2 separate regions of the Homo sapiens genome follow, and region 1 is linked to region 2. Evidence: fine-mapped expression QTL. Tissue or cell type: prefrontal cortex. Region 2 holds a variant in brackets; the other region holds the start of a gene. All regions are shown on one strand. Distances are from middle to middle.

The links. PIP is the estimated chance that this variant, and not a neighbour inherited with it, causes the effect.
Region 1: it holds the start of FAM174C, and the variant in region 2 is fine-mapped to the expression of FAM174C in prefrontal cortex (GTEx, PIP 0.99).

Annotation. Positions count from the first base shown.
Region 1 is chr19:1,274,255-1,276,932 of GRCh38, reverse strand. FAM174C (family with sequence similarity 174 member C) reads right to left here and starts at 1,403. Exons shown (of 3, transcript NM_017914.4): 1 at 1,103-1,403. The coding sequence starts at 1,383. CIRBP (cold inducible RNA binding protein) reads right to left here. Exons shown (of 6, transcript NM_001300829.2): 6 at 2,123-2,678. RefSeq lists an enhancer at 294-373 and silencers at 934-1,003, 1,334-1,703, 1,714-1,773, 1,672-1,896.
Region 2 is chr19:2,240,342-2,242,988 of GRCh38, reverse strand. All of the region lies in intron 1 of SF3A2 (splicing factor 3a subunit 2), which reads right to left. Among named protein-coding and RNA genes, the nearest start is that of SF3A2, 4.8 kb to the right of the region's middle. RefSeq lists a silencer at 109-306 and enhancers at 525-819, 2,520-2,647. The variant C/T (reference allele first, on the strand shown) is at 1,446.

The DNA of each region.
Region 1 (2,678 bases), 970 kb after region 2:
GCACGCTGATGTCACTCCCATTGCACTGATGAAAAGACTGAGGCTCACACAGGGGTGAGACTTTGCCAAAGACAACAGAATGGAAGCCTGTCTCAGGGCCAAGCCCCTGGTGGCCCCAGCAGCCCGGGAGGCAGGGAGGGCGCGGCATACAGGCAGGGGAGAGCGCGCAGCAGGTGCTTCCACAGGAAGAGGTGTGGAGCACAGGGGAGGCTCTGCACAGGGCCCATAAAAAGCAGCATGGCGGAGTGCAGGTGCTCACATCTATAATGCCAGCACTTTGGGAGGCCAACGAAAAAGGATCACTTGAGCCCAGGAGTTCAGACCAGCGCGGGTAACATGGCGAGACCCCATCGCTACAATAAAAACTTATAAAAAATAAAAAGCGGCTTGACTTTGCCAGGGTGGTGATGGGGAGGGATAAGGTCCTCGCTGTGTCTCTCCCACCCGGGAGAAGCAGCCACACTGGGTAGTCAGGAGCCCAGAGGAGACTGGAGCCACAGGCCAGGGAAGCCGGGGTGGCCTGAACACGCAGAAGCCCCTCCTGCCCAGGGGCTGCCTACAGCTGGAGACCCCCGCGAGGGTCTGGGGACGCAGCTGCACCTCCCGGGCTGTGGGAGCACCCAAGGCGGGCACGTGGCCGACCCTGGCGACGAACCAGCTTCAGTGGGTAGAAGCAGAAAGGAAAATATCGGGACCCCACGGAAAGGCCTGGCGGCAGGCGGGAAGATGAGAACGAGGACGGGCATCCGGCGACAAGGAGCCAAGGAGGCCCCCTCGCCCCGCCAGGGCCTGACCCCTGCCCGGCATGCTCCGGCTTCAGTGGCCCCACCTGGGAAACGGGCAGCGTCACCCCCGAGTTAAGAGGCGGCGCGCTGGGCACCTCCAACCCCAGGCGCAGGCTGGAGAGCGGGTGAGTCCCGTGGCCCCTGCACCGCCCACACCACGTGACGACCCCGCACAGCACCGCCCACGCCCACTCCAACAGGGAGAGAGGGAGGGAGGGAGGGAGGGAGGGGAGGACCCCGCGGCCCGGCACGTGACGCACTAGGCGCGCGCTAATTGGCCAAGGCTGAGAGACGGCGCCCACGTGCGCCTGACGCACCTAAACGCCCGGATCAGGAAGTAGAGCGCGGTCAGGCCGCAGAAGCCCAGGATCACGTAGAAGGAGCGCGTCAGCGCCGAGCCCGACGCCCCCGGCGGACGCGTGTGCGTGCTGTTGTGTGGCGCGCCCGGCTGGCTCCCGTTCGTCACGGCCGGCGGCGGCGACAACGTGACCTGCGCGGGGCGCAGCGGCGAGGCCTCTTCGGCACCGCACGGCAGCGCCGCCAGCAGCAGCGCCAGCAGGAGCAGCAGCAGCGGCGGCTGCAGCACGCGCGGCCCCATGGCCCGGCGGAAGCGGTGGCGGCGCCCCGCCCCTATGCGCGCTGTCAGTCAGGCGCGCGGAGGTGATGCCAGCCAATGGGGCGCGGAGGCGGAGCTTGACGCCGGGCCCCGCCTCCGCCTGGTGAGCCCCGGCGCTACCCACAGTGCCCCGCGCGCCCGCCGCGGAACTTGCTTCGTCGAACCGCTCCAAGGGATCAGGACGGAGGCCCGGAGCCCGCCCGTGGGAGTCCCGGCAAGGCGCAGCCGGCAGAGCCCAGAACTGCCAGCCCAGCGTGGGGGGTCGCGGCTTCCGAGGAAATCGGGCTGGCAGCGGGGAGACGGGGCGGACCCCGACTTCAGGACCTCGGGCCGCTCATTCCCACCCACTTCGGGGCGACCCCCGCCACTCCTGCCCCGGCCTCACGGACACTGAGAACGCGTCGGCCACGTCCAGGGCCCAGGAAGGTGGCGCCCCGCTCCCAAGCCTGCTACAGGGAACCCGGGACTCGGCCCAAGACGGGGCCTGACAGCGGCTGCGCGGCCGCCGCTCCCTCGAAGCCGAGTGCGCCTCAGATCCCGCGAGACTGGAGTCTCCGCGCTGCGAACCCCCTCAGTGGCGAGCCCCCCGCGGTCACTGCTCGGACAATGACCCTTGCAGTCTTCCCTGTCGGGTCCTACTCGTGCGCTGAACCGAGGTCCGCAGGCTTTTCTTCCAGTGGCCCCGCTCCGCCGACAGACCCCCCTGAACCACAGACTCGGCTTTCTGGGTGCACACGTGGCCCTTTATTCGAATCCGACTTTCACAGGGCTCCACATCGTTGTGGGCAAGGACTGGCCGCCCCGTAAGCTGCCGGCGCACCGCAGCCCGTGCTCCAGGAGAGACTCGAGGCCCTGAGCCCGCACCTCACTGGCGAAGCGCCTCCTGGAAGGAGGAGGAAGGGAGGGAGAACAGGCGCGGGCTCCAGGCGGGGGACCCGGCGCTCCCGGGAGGCGCTGCCCTGCACCCAACACACACCGAAAGGCGCCCGCCATGGGGCCATAGGTGCGGGAGAGCAGGACTCACTGAAACGCCCAGGTGCCGCCCGGGACAGGGCTCAGCGCCACATGCCACTCTTCCCGAAAGCACTTACAGGGGACAAGCCTCCTGGGCAAGCGGCTGCCTCCAGCTCTTGTTCCAGGTGAAGTCCCTCCTGGGACAGTGACCCCAGAGGTCATCGCTGCTCTCAGGCCACCCTTCCCCGAGTCCTGGCCGGGCCCCTTCAACCTGCCAAAGCAAAGCAGCGTTACTCCCAACGTCCTCCACAGGGCTCACAGCT
Region 2 (2,647 bases):
CCAAGCCCCTAGTGTTCACGCCTTCCTCTGAATTCCCTCTCTGGTTGGCTACGCTTACTTGTCCCAACCTAATCTCTTGGGCTCGATGTAAATTTGTTAGGCGGAGATCAGTGAGGACACTGATCTTCGCATCCTCACTGAGTAACACCTGGGAGATCTGCCACATCTGCTTGTGGCGCAGGGGGCTCTGCTGAGTCCCCAACATCCTCTTCCTGATGCAGGCCTCTGCCAAGGTCTCCCACGCCCTTTCAGGCTCTGTGCAAATCTGAGTTCCAGGCAGCCTCCTCTCATCTCCTGGTAGTCTTTCCCTTGCCTGCTCAATGTTGGCCCCGGGCCCTGGTTTAAGGGTCTTGGGTGAGCTCAGAGAGATGGGGCCCATGAGACTGAGTGAATCACTGCCCCCAAAAGATGTCCACATCCTAATCCCTGGGACCTGTGAACATGTCCCCTCATGGCAGAAAAGGGATGTGCAGGTGGGCTTGAGGATCTTAAAATGGCAGGTGATCCTGGGTGACCTCATGAGAGGAGGCGGGAGGCTGAGAGTCAGAGAGGCTGCGCTGTGGCTGTGAATGGGGAGGAAGGGGCCCCGAGGCAAGGCACACAGGTGCCTCTGGACACTGGGAAAGGCAGGAAACGAGTTGTCCCCCAGAGCCTCCAGAAGGAATGGAGCCCTGTGGACTGTTTGGACTCTGACCCCAGAACCAGAAGCTGATACAGCCGTGTCATCTGAACTACTGCGTCTGCAGTGATGTGTCACAGTGTCTGCAGGTGTGCAGGGGCACGCTGAGGGACAGGGCACAGTGGCCGCAGGTGTGCAGGGGCACGCTGAGGGACAGGCCACAGTGGCGGCAGGTGTGCAGGGGCACGCTGAGGGACAGGCCACAGTGGCCGCAGGTGTGCAGGGGCATGCTGAGGGACAGGCCAGCTGTACTGCTGACTTGTGGTGGGGCCTGAAGTCACCCCTTACTCTATGGGGGCCCAGGAGCCCTCCCCAACCAGTTTTTATTCCCTGGGCAAGTTTATGAAAATGATCAAGCATGGTAACTGGTGAGGTGGACCTCCCAGCTCACTGCAGTATCACGGCTGCCCCATCAGAAGTTCAGATGTCACAAAAGCCCACCTAGAGATGCCCATTTTTACATGTTGTCACGTAAACTTCGAGAAACCACCACTGTGACCATCGCCATCCCTTCACAAAACAAAGAACATTCCAGTGTGAAAAAGGAGACTGTGACACCAGAAGGACTGTCCTTTGCTGGGAACGCCACCCTCTGGCCCCAAGGAACCCTCCCCGCCTCGGGCTTCTTGGCCACACATTCTTCAGGACCAGGGAGAACTGCACCCTCTCCATGCTGGCGCCGTCAGCTGCAGGCCACGCCAACTCCTACAGTCCCTGCTGCCACAACAGCTTACAGCTGCCTGGGAGGTTCTGTCTCCGGACGGCC[C/T]ACAGGCGGGCAGGATTGTGTGGGTGCCGCCCGGACAGGTTCATGAAGTGCCTCATTTTTCTCTGGAGGACATTCAAGCATTTCCTGGTCAAGTGACATGAAACTCACATCAGGGGACGTGCGTGGGGAGCCCAGCAAGCAGCCTCCCACCAGGCCGCAGCCGCACTTGCCTCTCCACACATCACAGAAACCACAGTCCTCCACGCATCTCAGCACCGAACCAAGCCCTCGCTCGGGGGAACGTGTGAGAAGGCAGGGAATCGGCCTTCTTTCACGGATGCACTCCAAGAACCCAGGAGGGGCCTGGTGCTGAGAGGCACTCCCACACACAGATCTCGGGGCGTCATCAAGCGCTCCCCTCTCCCGGGAGGACGACCTGCTCCTTTCGTCATGAAGGAATTCAACAGCATGCGAACGCCCTGCTTGTCCCTGTCGTGGCCTCTCCTGGACCACGCCCCTACTCTGAGGCTAAGCTCTGCAGAGCCATCACTGGTCTCTACCCCCAAGCCTGCACTCTCCACAGCGCCCACCCATGCGTCCTCATGGCCGGCAGCTTCTGGCAGAGAGAAGAGCAGTGGGTGGGACGTGTCTGCGGAGGACCCAGGGCCCAGGAGGAGCGGAGCTCAGCCTCAGGAGCGACCTGCGCTTTGCTCCTCCATGCGGAAGAGGCAGCACAGCTTCTGGGGCCAGGACAGGTGCAGATGGCCACACCAAGAGCCACCAATCTATCTTGATGCACTTATTTCCGGGCACATTTTAGTGACATTTCCAGAACGTTCTAATGACACGATGGCTGGGAGGACTTGGAGAAGGAACTTAGATGGCAAAATGCTAACAAAGCCAAGAGTTCAAATCCATCTAGGGCAAGCCAAGTTACTTCTTAAAACTGGCCAGACAGAACGCCCCAGCGGCCAGTGGCTGGCTCAGGACACAAGCTCCAGCTGTCACAGGGAGCACCTGTGGAGTCTGGCCCACTGAAACCTAAACCCAGACCAATACTCAACCACTCACCAAGTAAAGCTCTGATCCGAAAACCAGAAACCATCCGAACCCAAGCCATCGCAGCCACCGAACACCCACACTGTCCCTCCTCAGCAGCTGAAATGGGGCGGCACCCCGGGGAAGGTCCCACGCTCGGATCGCCCACAACCCTCGAGGAGATCAGAACTTTATTCCCAGAAGAACTGGTATAAAAGGGCCTC